2 separate regions of the Homo sapiens genome follow, and region 1 is linked to region 2. A link means that fine-mapping ties the variant in region 2 to the expression of a gene that starts in the linked region. Tissue or cell type: cerebral cortex. Region 2 holds a variant in brackets; the other region holds the start of a gene. All regions are shown on one strand. Distances are between the middles of the regions.

Region 1 (5,453 bases), 850 kb after region 2:
TATTCCTCGCTCCCCAACCATATTGACCATTCACCCGGATAAGGCAATTTCCTCGAAAGGGCGATCTGAGGACGCTGACCCCCTAAATGACTGAGGACGCTGGATCTTTAGGGGGAACATCGTGTCTTGGGGGTGCCAAAAGTCCCCAGCCCTTACCCACACCTTTGTCACGACGGGCAATTGGGTATGTGTAGGGGAAAAACAGCAACGTTAAAACGCAACTGTGTAAATGAGGATAGAGAGTGCGAAAGGAGGGAGAGGCGAGGAGCTGCTCTATTTCTAGGGAGGTTTTGGGGAGACTGATCAGCTCCAAGGACAGACCGCTGGGAAGGGAAAAACGGCCCACATCGAACTGGATGCCGGATGGAAACCTCTCTGCGCTATTAGACTGCGTCCAGTACAGCAGATGGCACGAGCACGTGCGGCGCTCAGCTTAGGCTCTCGGAGGCAGCTGAGTTGGAAATCCCGACGGAAAGCACCCACAAGCTCCCACTCTGCGCTGGCCCACCCGCGTGCACGCCCACCCCCCACGCGCGTCCCTGGCTCAGAAGCGCACAGATGTTTACTGCTTAGAGCCGGTACCGCTGGGGAGATCGAGCGACTTGCGCGGCGCACAGTGCGGCGCTGGCAGGGCTCTGGGCTCCCGGTCGGGGGTTCGAGCGGCCAAGGGATGGGGGTGGGGGCGGGGAGAGTGGGGGGAGGGCGAAAGACCGCCGAGAGGAGGGGGGAGTGGGTGGACTAATGATGAAAAAGTCTCCTCCATCCCAGTTCCTTAATTAAATGCATGGAAAGAACCGAGGCGAGCACATCTGGTTTCAATCTACAGCCCTTTGATGGCATCAAATGTTCTTTTCCCAGATCAGGGCTGGAAGTTCTGGGCTAACTATGGCCGTTTGGAGCCCAGAAACCATTTACACACACTCGTACCCTTCTTTCTCTCCAGTCGAGCCTCTTGACTATAGGACGAAAAAAAAAAAAAGTCTAGCAATCAAGGGAGTGCGGGAGTACGGATGCGTGTGTGTGTGTGTGAGTGCGCGTTTAAAGAACATAAAACGCCACAAATAAGCACTTAATATTTTACTGAGTCGTCATACAGTAACTCATTTCTAATGAGACTGTTAAAGCTGTTACCAAATTCCAACAGGTCATGAAAAAACTGCTCAGCACCTCTCTGTCTTCTGTCAGGTTAGGGCTCCGCAGACGGACGACAGAGGATTATCCGTAGACTTAGATGGGGGTTCCTCCGCCCCTCTCTGTCCTCCTGCCACCACAGCCAGGCTGGACGCAGAACCGCACGGAAGCCTCCCCAACTCCTGCCTCTGGGAGTGCTCCTGCCTGCTTCAAGGAATCTGGGCAGCGGGACCCTCTGGGTTTAGCGTCCTCGCCTGGGGAAGCAACTTTGGCCTTACCGTAGAAGTTACAAAATTGGCGGGGGTAGGGAGAAAGATTATAATATATATTTGGAGTCCTTTCTTCCAGTTTAATAAACACGTACTTTTCTCATTGCCCTAGTCCTGGTATGCCTAATGGCGGGGAAAGCCTCAAATAAACTCGGTGCCCTCTGGATCTCCCCAACCTGCCTTTAGTCCTTGCGAGAGGCGTGAGAGAACTTCCTATTATCATCCCTTTTGTTATTTTTATTACATTATTTAATAGGCTCCCTCTACGGAACCAAAAATAGCCTTAATATGCTTACTTTCTCCCTGTACTCCGCCCCAAACTGTTAGAACAGCAGAAAATTTTTTTTTGGGGGGGGGCGGTTTGGGGGAAGGCAGAAGGAGAAGAAAATTTGATTGTGATGGTGGTGGATTTTTTCCAAATTTCCCCACAGCTGTTATCAAAACATGCAAATGAGATTTTCCAACAGGATCTTAAACAAATCTGGAGGAGTTAATGCCGAAGCAAAATAATCAGCACGTTTGAAGTGACTGTGAGTTTCAGTTTGTCTTTTCTCCCCGTGATATTATTGCAGGGGAATGATAATTAGACCTTTAGAAATCCAAAGGGGCTCTCTTGCTCTCTTCCCTCTCTCATTTCTCTTCTCTCTTTCTCTCTCTCTCTCTCTCCCTTCCTCCCTCCCTCCCTCCCTCTCTCCCTCCCTCTCTCTTGTTCCCTCCCTCTCCCTTTCTCTCTAACTCTGATGTTGGCAAAGGGGGTTTTCTTAATCAGACTGTTTTTTGGTCCCAGGGAAAGGAGGAAGAAGGAGATTGTGATGGAGAAAGGGGGTCTGTGAAACGTCAGGCACAGCACAAAGGCTTTGCCACGTAATTACAGGCTCCTATTAAGTCGAGATCTGCCCTCCCAGGGGTCTCCAATTTTCTTGTATTCCCTACAAAGCCTCCTCTGCATGCCAGTTTGTGCCTTTTGAAGTGCCAGAGAGCTTCTTGATCCAACTGAGAAGGAAAAAGGAGCCCAGCAAGAAGAGGGGGAGAGAGAGAAGGGGAAAGGGGGGAACCCACCAGCACCCTCCGTCGGACTCTTGAAGCCTTTTTTTTTTAATTCTTAATTTTTTTTTTTACTCTTTACAAAAAGTAAAGTGAGAATCCTGCTCTCTAATACATCTGCAAGACATCACCCTCTCCTCCTGAAACTTTAGTCACTCCTGAGAATCCACAGGAGTGCAGAGAGGGGGGAACACGTTTTCTTGAAGATGTTTTAAAGCTGGAACAAGCCTTCTTCTGTTGGTGCTTGAACTCTTGCCTGGGAATAACTTTTTTAACCTTTAAAAAAACCATTCACTTTGATTCTTCTCTCCCACCCCTTCTTCTCTCTTCTTCTGTTTGCCTAACTCCCCCGCCCTGCTGGCCTCCGCTTTCCTCTCTCCCCCTTGTTATTATTTTTAGTCTGTGCGTGTGGACACTTTTGGAGAGTTGGAAGGGATTTTTTTCTCCTGACTTGAACATAGGGTGACTTTTTAATATTGTATTTTACTGTGGATTATCTCTTTGGACCGCGCCGGACTTGGCCTCAGGAAATCAACCAATGCTGCGGAAGGCGGCTGGTGCACAACGCTCTGCTCTACAGAAGGGGGTCCCCCACCCTCTTTTCCAATTTTTTTTTTTTGGCCTTCCTCTCCTTCCCTCCCTCTTCCTCCCTCTCTCTCTCTCTCTCTCCACTACCCCCCTCTTTCTTCCCCACTCGGCTCCTCTCCCCCCTCGCGCCCACAGCGTTTGGTGTTGATTCGAGCGGGAAGAGGGGGGTGGGTGGGATCGGTGGGGGAGACCATGACCTCCAGCTACGGGCACGTTCTGGAGCGGCAACCGGCGCTGGGCGGCCGCTTGGACAGCCCGGGCAACCTCGACACCCTGCAGGCGAAAAAGAACTTCTCCGTCAGTCACCTGCTAGACCTGGAGGAAGCCGGGGACATGGTGGCGGCACAGGCGGATGAGAACGTGGGCGAGGCTGGCCGGAGCCTGCTGGAGTCGCCGGGACTCACCAGCGGCAGCGACACCCCGCAGCAGGACAGTGAGTGAGGGGCGCATGCCCACGGGGGTGTGTGCCCGGGACAGAGGGCGGGGACCCGTGTAGGGCAGCTAGAGCCCGTCCGCGGCCAGAAAGACAAGGTCCTGGGACCAGGAGAGGTGATGGCAGACTTCAAAGGAAGGGCCAGTCACAGGGGAAACCAGATGAGAAAAGCGGGTCTCGGCCGAGGGCATAGCCAAGGAGGACGCTGGAGAGAGGCTCCAAGGTCCGGGGACACTCCGAGGCCCTGCGGTCTCAGGCAGGGACTCTGTCCGCGGCGGACTCTCTTTACTTCGGCTAGGCACCGGCTCGGTTCATCCCGCACGCGGGGCGGCGGGGCTGGGCTGGGAAAAGGTCTTAGCGGGGTGCAAACTCAGAGAGCCAGCGCTGTTTGGGAAAGCAGCAGGTTAAAGATGCTGAGTCGGGTTGGAAGGGCTTCTCTCGGGCAGCGTATGACGGCTTGAGGGAGGGCACCAGGCACAGGGAGCAGGACTTGGCGCTGCTCAGGCTGCACTCTCCACGCGGGCACCGTAAGGCCGGGCGCGACCGGGAGGCCCCGAGAGAACGCCCGGCCCCAGACGCTGGAGCTGCTCTCTGCCCCCTGCTGTTGCCTCTACCGCAAATGGGTTTGAGACTGGCAGAGTCAAAAGCCCGGCTGGCTTGGGAAAACTCGGGCCAAGCAAAGGGAATGTCCTTTAAGGGTGAAACCTGAAATCCAGCCCCGCATGATCCCGCACAGGCGAGCTGCATCCGGGAGGCGCGAGCTTCAGTGCGGAGGCCAGTGTCACCTTAGAGGAGCTCTCCCTATTGGCTCTTAAACGCCCAGAAAAGTCCAGTTTCCCTTCCCCATCCTCACCGACCAACCTCGCGACCCATGAAAATCTCGCTTCGCTAGTGCCTTAAAAAGAGACTGCAATTGTATCCCCATGCCCCCAAGTCTGTAACAGACCGGTCACCCTGTTCATCCCAGGTGACATGTGGCCAGATATGTACAGATACTCCCTCTTCTCCTCGAGGTTGCAAGAGTCTGAACTTAGCTGTAAGTTCTCAAATGAGGCTGGTTGCTTTCTATGTCAGTAGTTGCTGGTTACCATTTTTGTCTTCAAATTTGGAAATCGTGGAACCGGGGGGCCCTCCAGCATTCTATGATTTTCACAAAACGTTGCCTATTTCAGACTCTCAAAGAATAGACATACAAATCAAACTGCACATAGAAACAATTGGAAACAGGGTCCGGGCACAGTGGTGGCCCCGCGGGCCACGCTACAGCAAGCCGCAGAGAGAGCCTCTGGTGTGCTCAAGACGCCTGGTCTTCACCCTGCTTCCTTAGTTCCGGCCTGGGCGCCCCTGGGTGTTTTTAGCCAAAAGCGGCCTAGGGCCGATCCACCCAATGCATTAGCAGACTGCTACAGGAACTGAATGAGGAAGTCTGGCCTGGACACCAGAGAAAGGTGGCCAACTCTGAGGAATGAAGAACCAGGTGTCCTCAAGTTCCGCATAAAGGGCTAGGCGCAGAGACAGAGACGTTCTCTTTAGGGTTTGGGTGCTTGAGAGGCTGCACCCGCAGCATTACTTAAGTGTTTGCATAGGCACTCTTAGTTCTAACAAAATGCACTGAGAAATACTATGATTGTTTTTAAACGTTTTACCAGGGAAAATGAAAAACGAAAAATGTAGGGAGAGTCCAGGCGCGGTGGCTCACGCCTGTAATCCTAGCACTTTGGGAGGCCGAGGCGGGCAGATCACGAGGTCAGGAGTTCGAGACCAGCCTAACCAACGTGGTGAAACCCCTCTCTCCTAAAAATACAAAAATTAGCCGGGCGTAGTGCCGAGCGCCTGTAATCCCGGTTACTCAGCAGGCTGAGGCAGGAGAATCGCTTAAACCCGGGAAGCAGAGGTTGCAGTGAGCCCAGATAGTGCCACTGCACTCCAGTCTGGATGACAGAGTGAGACTCCGTCTCAAAAAAAAAAAAAAAAAAAAAAAGTAGGGA
Region 2 (8,196 bases):
AAGGCGGAGATTGTGTCCATTTGTTTGACCCCTTTGTCTCCAGGGCCTGGTAGAATGCCTCATACATAGTAAGAATTCAATTAATATTTTACACAGAGAAAAAATTAGCAACTTATTTAAACAAATATAACTGCTTCAGAGGTAAACTGGGCACATCTTAGTTATATTATGTGATATATGATGCTTTTTGATTGTTTTTTTAAATGTTCTACAAGGTAGATATTGTTAGAGGTCCTAAGTTACTTGATGTGTTACTTGTGGTGATTGTATTCTTTTCTTTTTATTCATTTAGGCAGAGCCTTAAGCACCAGTCCATAATAAAAAGCCAGTTGAAACACAAAGATATAATTACTAGCTTGTGTGAAGACATTCTTTTCTCCTTCCATTCTTGTTTACAGTTAGCTGAGCAGATGACACAGTCAGATGCACAGGTAAAATTTGGGCTAATAGCATTTTAAACAGCAACTCTTATTTTCTTTGGCAGTTAGTAAATCTCATTTGAATGTCTGGGTCAGTCTATTTAAGAGGATTTTAATTTATTTCATTTGGGTGTTTTTTTTTGATCTGTGGGATTATTTATATCCCATAATTACTTTTCACCCAGAGCATTGTATTAGATTCCTAACTGCTGTCATTGCCTCTGGGGTCTGCCTGGCTCCCTCTTTGCTTGGTAACTGGTTGGTCACAGCATTCTTCTCAGAATCCTTTCATTCTTTTCTGCATGAGAACAAAAATTCTTTTGTTCATATTTGTATAAGATCTGATATAGCTGCAATCAATCTTGCATTTTTTCTTCACCAACGCATTGCGACCTTTAGGGATACAAGTATGTTTGTGCATGTATATGTATGTATCAGTCTTTTAAATTTGATATAGTCATACATTTGTTTTTATTTTGAAAAGTTAGAGTGTTGAATTGGTATCCCATTTATGAAACATTATATTCTAAAAATTTGTAGTACGATTATTGGGAATTATAACTCATTTTCCTGTAACACTGTTATACATAGTACCTTTTGCTTTCAGACTAGCCCTCAATTTTATTTAACTATAGTAGTCCTAAATTATAAGATTAATAGTACTCAGGACCTAACAGTTATATGTCATTTGTTTTTTTTTTTTTTGAGATGGCGTCTCACTCTGTCACCCAAGCTGGAGTGCAGTGGTATGACCTTGGCTCACTGCAGCCTCTGCCTCACGGGTTCAAGGGATCGTTCTGCCTTAGCCTCCTGAGTAGCTGGGATTATAGGCGCCTGCCACCACGCCTGGCTAATTTTTTTAGTAGAGACGGGGTTTCGCCATGTTGGCCAGGCTGGTCTCGAACTCCTGACCTCAGGTGGTCCACCCGCCTTGGCCTCCCAAAGTGCTGGGATTACAGGTGTGAGCCACCGCGCCCAGCCTATATGTAATAATTTTAATGGGACCATGAATTGAATATTTCTTCCTTGAATAGCAATGACATAGCCCCTTCTATTGTACATCTGCAAGCTGATACAGGGAATTCCTTTGTACCTGCGCTCTTCCCTGCCAGTCAGCTATGGGGGTGAAAGTGTAGGGGTTCATCCAAGTCCTAAAACTGGTAGCAACTCCTAGGGCAGGGCTGATCTGGAAGGACAGACCCTAGGGGAGGGTGGAACTTTAAAAAGAAGTTCTGAAGGTAGTAAGAAGGAAATGAGGAGTAGTGTTAGGAAGGGGCTAACTTTTTTCTTCTTGCTTCTCTTCTTTATCTCACCTGCCCCTCCCCTTGTATCCCTTCTTCCTTTTTCCCTTTCCTTTTTTGTCCTCACTTCATTCGTGCATCCTTTCTGATTCCTCTTACCTTGCTAAAAGGAGAAGTTTGTTTGGGTATCCTATATCAATGGCAGGAAGGTTGTTTTCTTCTTTACCTTTATCCTATAGATTCATATTCTCAACACCAACCTCCTCCTTTTTCAGTTTCCTTCTTGCTTCTCTTGACACCACAGAGTTTGCAGCTAGTACTTGGAGAGGAAAATTAAACAGAGATACTTGGACCAAGAGTAAGATGAAGAAAGTCTAAACAACAGTATAGTCTATAGTGGCAAGAGAGAGTATGGGGGCTGCTTAGCCAGGGTGGCTGTACATAAAGTATATCTTCAGTTTATATAAACTGCTTATAGATGGAAATCAGAAAATTTAAATTCTCTTAACTGTCCAAGAAAATTCTCATTTTTTCAAATTTGGGACTGATAAATGTGACCAGTTCTGCTTACTGTCCATTGCCTGAAATGGAGCTTTGAGGTGGACTGTATAATTTCTTCAATCTTAACTCCAAATTCTGATCAGCGACGCCCTCTGCTGTTCACTATTAATATTTATTTACCAATCAAAGTAAAGTATTGAAGTTTTCCTGGCAGTTTTCACTTTGTGTTTTAGTCCATTTAGGCTGCTATAACAAAATCCCTTAAACTGGGTAAGGGATTATAAATATTAGAAATTTATCTCTCACAGTTCTGGAAGCTGGGAAGCCCAATATCAAGGCACCAGTAGATTTGGTGTCTAACGAGGGTGTGCCGTCTGCTTCAAAAATGGCCCCTTGTTGCTGCATCCTCACTTAGTGCAAGGGGCAAGACAGCTCCCTTCAACCTCTTTTATAAGGGCACTTATGTCATTCATGAGGGCAGAGCCCTCATGACTTAATCACTTCCCCAAAGGCCCCACCTCTTAATAGTATCACATTGGGTGTTAGGTGTCTGGGAGGACACCAATCTTCAAGCCATATCATCTCACTTGGAAAAAAGTCAAAATAAAACCAGTAGATTTAATTAATATTACACTATTTATAGAAGCATGTGATGTATCATTCCTTGTATTAATTTCCTGGGGTTGCCGTAACAAGTTACCACAAACTAGGTGGCTTAAAACAATAGAATTTTATTCTCTCACATTTCTAGAGGCAGAAGTTCACAGTGTGTCAATAGGGCCATGTTCTCTGGAAGGCTTTAGGGGAGAATATATTTCATATCTTTCTCTTAGCTTCTCGGTGTCACTGGCAATCCTTAGCTTACTTTGGCTTTCTGTGTCTTCACATCATCTTTTTATAAGAACACCAGTGATAGTGATTAAGGGCATACCTTACTTTAATATGACCTCATCTTAACTAATTATGTCTTCAATAACCCTATTTCCAAATAAGGCCACATTCTGAAGTATTGGGAGTTAGAACTTAAAGCTTTTTGGGAGGGACACAGTTCAACCCATAACAACCCCTAAAATCGATATTTATTCTCAATTAAGTCTTGAAATTGGTTTCAAAAAGAGAATATTCTATTAGAGTTTTTAATGTATAGTTTTAACATATAGTTCTTTAGCCCCCAATTTTTTTTTTTTTTTTTTTTTTTTTTTTTTTTTTTTGAGACGGAGTCTCGCTCTGTCGCCCAGGCCGGACTGCGGACTGCAGTGGCGCAATCTCGGCTCACTGCAAGCTCCGCTTCCCGGGTTCACGCCATTCCCCTGCCTCAGCCTCCCGAGTAGCTGGGACTACAGGCGCCTGCCACCGCGCCCGGCTAATTTTTTTGTATTTTTAGTAGAGACGGGGTTTCACCTTGTTAGCCAGGATGGTCTCGATCTCCTGACCTCATGATCCACCCGCCTCGGCCTCCCAAAGTGCTGGGATTACAGGCGTGAGCCACCGCGCCCGGCCTGCCCCCAATTATTTAGTTTTTCTATAAACAGGGAAATTTATTTGTGTGGCCCTTAGAACTAATTTAATTTCCACTCTAATTCCTACTTATGTTTATATAATGCTTTTAGAAATTTGTATTATTCAGAAAATAAACATATACTATTGTATCTGTTGCCTACACTTAGATTTTATTGCCTGCTATATTTAAATTTTATTAGTATTTTAATTGTTTTATTAAAGAAAGAATGTGCCTGTAATCTCAGCACTTTTGAGAGGCCAAGGCAGAAGGATTGCTTGAGCCCAGGAGTTTGAGACCAGACTGAGCAACACAGGGAGACCCCCATCTCTACAAAAAATAAAAAAATTCTCCAGGCCTCATGGCACATACCTGTAGTTCTAGTTACTTGGGAGACTGGGGTGGGAGGATGCATTGAGCCCAGGAGATTGAGGCTGCAGTGAGCCATGATCAGGCCACTGTACTCCAGCTTGGACAACAGAGTGAGAGCTTGTCTAGATAGATAGATAGATAGATAATCTAAATAGATAATAGACAGATTATCTAAATAGATAATAGACAGATTATCTAAATAGATAATAGACAGATTATCTAAATAGATAATAGACAGATTATCT[A/AG]AATAGATAATAGACAGATTATCTAAATAGATAATAGACAGATTATCTATCTAAATAGATAATAGATTATCTAAATAGATAATAGATAGATAGATTAGATAGATAGATAGATAGATAGAGCTTGGACAACAGAGTGAGAGCCTGTCTAGATAGATAGAAACAAAGAAAGAAAGAAAGAATGGTGCTCATATTTTAAAGCATTGAAAAATGGTCTTCCTTGCTTATATTACCCACACCTTCTTTGTTGGCATTAAGATGCAAACTTTGTTTTAAACAGTTGAGTAAATCAAAGATGGGACTGTTAAGTTATTTGTGTTATTTACCTGCTTTTTGAAAATGTAAAAATAAAACTCTAGGTTTAATTAGTAGTATGCTATTTAGTAATGAAGTAAAGCTAGAGGCTTCGAACAAATCTTGTGTAATTTCCTCTTGAATGAGAGAGAAAATTTAAAGTAAGCAAACAAATAAGTTGTGTGTCACCACTCATTCAGTCATTTAACAAGTATTTCCAGAGTACTTATTCTGTGCCAGGAAATGTTGTAGGTGCCCTCAACAACTTAGAGTCTAGCCTGAGACACAAGTAAGTAGGTAATTATTATAGAATGGTATGATCTTTGGAGGACTGGGTATTGGCTGGCTCATGGGAGTACAAGATAGGTACCCAGTGATGAAGTCAGGAAAGGTTTCTTATGGTGATATGATGACGTCTATGCTGATTATAAGGTCAGTGTAGAATAAACTTTGTGCTTTTAAATTTGCATAGCACTGTATTAGAGAGTTCATCTTCAAAATAATCGAAAAGGCTGAGTGTGGTGACCCATGGCTGTAATCCCAGCACTTTGGGAGGCCGAGGTGGGCAGATTGCTTGAGCTAGGAGTTCGAGACCAGGCTGGCCAACATGGTGAAACCCCGTCTCTACTAAAAATACAAAAATTAGCCAGGAGTGATGGTGCGCACCTGTAATGCCAGCTACTTGGGAGGCTGAGGCAGGAGGATCACTTGAACCCAGGAGGTGGAGGTTGAAGTAAGCCGAGGTCATGCCACTGCACTCCAGCCTGGGCAACAGAGTGAGACTCCATCTCAAAAAAAAAAAAAATGATCAAAGAAAGGTGAATTTTCATCTACCCTATTTCTGCTGAGGAAAATGGACTATTTTCAAATATTTTTAATAAGGGTCAAAATGAGGGATCATATTCCATTAGCGAACCATCCAACTCTGTTTTGATTTGGTTTAATGAAGATTTTGCTATATTGGAAAAGAAACATAGCCAATCAACATATAAGTTAAGATATGTTATTTTCATATGAAATAATTCACAAATTAAAGACAGTAATTTATTTGACTTAATTTTATGGCACTATTTAAAGCTGTTTGGATTATAGTGTGTATTATAAACTTGGGTGGTGGAACAACCAATATTTATTGAGCTAAGTTGCTTAAACGTCAGACACTGTTTAAATCTCACAATAATCCTGTATTAGCCTCATTATAGATGAGAAAACTGGGCCACAGAAAGGTTTAATAACTTTCCCCAGATCATATAGTAGTTGTAGTAGGACCAGGACTTAAATCCAGGCAGATGAATCTATAGCCCTCCCTGCATATTATTGGCACTACCCACTGTTTTATCAATTTACAAATGTAATACGTAATCAGAAAACTCACACATATTACACAAGTATCTAACATGGAAGGTTAAATCCTATTTTCGTCTACTAGAAAGAATCACAGGAAAGGTTTTGATTTATTTTGGGGGTGGTTTAACACATTTAAAAATAATGATAGGATTGTGTTATCATTAGAGTCAATAGACAAATCTCTGAAAACAGAACGTTTTATTTGGGAGGAAGTAATTGCACTTTGGAGCATTCATGCAGACCAATTGTTCGGTATGTCCACAGAAAAAGGAGAAGGTTAGCGGTCTTATAAAAAAGGAGACATATTACATATAGCTCTTCAAGAAAGTCCATTGGCACTAGATTTGGGGAGCTGTCAAGCTCTGATTGGTGAGTGATGGCAGTGGGTAACACTGGTCTTAGAGTTGCACTAGTTTCTTTCAGTAGCCCTTAGATAAAACTGGTTTCCGGTTACAGCAGGCAGTTTCAGCAGCCAGGCCTACAGAGAATTACATTTTGGGAGAAATGTTTTGTGCCCTGAGTGCTTTTCCCCTAGGCCTGTTGACTCTGTTTTAGTTGGGTATGACAAGAATGACTCAATTTTTGTAATTAATTTTACATTATACAAGTTGTTTACAATTTGATTTTTTACTTAACAGTTTATCCTTAGGGCTTTCTGTGTCCATGAAGATATATGTACCTGATTCTTATGTGATTATACTATAAATTTATAGTTGACCCTTGAACAATGCAGGTCTGAACTGCACAGGTCAACTTATGCAGACTTTTTTAAATTGTCATTTATTACCATAAAATAATACAAATCTATTATCAAAGGTTAAAATTTATCAAAACTTAGCACACAGAGACCATACATGGTACCATGCAGTTGAGAGAAATGTAAACAAAGGTAAATATGCAGTATTAAATCATAACTGCATAAAATTAACTGTGGTACATATTGTAGTACTATTAGGTTGTGCCAAAGTAATTGCAGTTTTTGCCATTATTTTCTATATATTCAGTATACAATAATTTCATAGCCACTTCCTGTTGCTGTTACTGTGAAAAGTGTTGCAAGGCCATGTGATACTAACCATCCCCACGTGAGCAGTTTGTCTCTCCAGTAAGTAAATTGCTTTTCTCAGTAAAAAGTTATTGCTTGAGGTGCCTCCATATTTTTTCATCATCTTTAATGCAATATGGAAACCCATAAGAAGTGCCACTAGTGATCCTGGAAGTGCTCCCGAGAATTCCTTGATACATATTGTAAATTGAGGTCTGCAACTGCAATTACCTGCCATTTCAGATAGATGATTCTTCTTGTAAATAGACAGTGTTAATACATATACAAAATATGTTAATCAGCTCTTTTTATTAGTAAGGCTTATAGTCAGTGGTAGGCTATTAGTAGTTAAGTTTTGGGAGACTCAAAAGTTATCCTCGGATTTTAGACCACATGGGGGTTGGCACCCCTAGACCCCATGTTGTTCAAAGGTCAACTGTATTTAGGTGTTCTCCACATGATGCACACTTGGTACATTTCAGTTTTCACTATATAAAAAAAGTTTTGTTTTTTTTTTTGTAAAGCGAAAGCAAGTTTATTAAGAAAGTAAAGGAATAAGGCCAGGCGCGGTGGCTCACGCCTGTAATCCCAGCACTTTGGGAGGCAGAGGTGGGTAGATCATGAGGTCAGGAGTTGGAGACCAGCCTGGCCAACGTGGTAAAACCCCATCTCTACTAAAAATACAAAAATTAGCTGGGCACAGTGGTGGGTGCCTGTAATCCCAGCTACTCCGGAGGCTGAGGCAGGAGAATCTCTTGAACCCAGGAGGTGGAGGTTGCAGTGAGCCGAGATCGCGCCACTGCACTCCAGCCTGGGTGACAGAGCAAGACTCTGTCTCAAAAAAAAAAAAAAGAAAAGAATAAAGAATGGTTACTCCATAGGTGGAGCAACCCCTAAGTCTCCTGGTTGGCCACTTTTATGGCCATTTCCTGATTTATATGCTAAACAAGGGGTAGATTATTCCCTTTCTGGGAAAGGGGTGGGCAATTCCCAGAACTAAGGGTTTCTCCCCTTTGTAGATCATATAGGGTAACTTCTGGTTGTTGCCAGGGTATTTGTAAACTGTGATGGAACTGATGGGAGTATCTTTTATCATGCTAATGCATTATAATTAGTGTATAGTGAGCAGTGAGGACAACCAGAAGTCACTTTTGTCACCATCTTAGATTTGGTGGGTTTTGGCCAGCTTCTCTACTGCATGCTGTTTTATCAGCAAGGTCTTTGTGACCTGTCTTGT

The links. PIP is the estimated chance that this variant, and not a neighbour inherited with it, causes the effect.
Region 1: it holds the start of PRRX1, and the variant in region 2 is fine-mapped to the expression of PRRX1 in cerebral cortex (GTEx, PIP above 0.99).

What each region holds. Positions count from the first base shown.
Region 1 is chr1:170,660,995-170,666,447 of GRCh38, forward strand. PRRX1 (paired related homeobox 1) reads left to right here and starts at 3,137. Exons shown (of 4, transcript NM_022716.4): 1 at 3,137-3,465. The coding sequence starts at 3,225. RefSeq lists enhancers at 2,042-2,569, 3,770-4,630.
Region 2 is chr1:169,807,499-169,815,694 of GRCh38, forward strand. FIRRM (FIGNL1 interacting regulator of recombination and mitosis) reads left to right here. Exons shown (of 25, transcript NM_001320047.2): 9 at 293-431. Among named protein-coding and RNA genes, the nearest start is that of FIRRM, 17 kb to the left of the region's middle. The variant A/AG (reference allele first, on the strand shown) is at 4,277.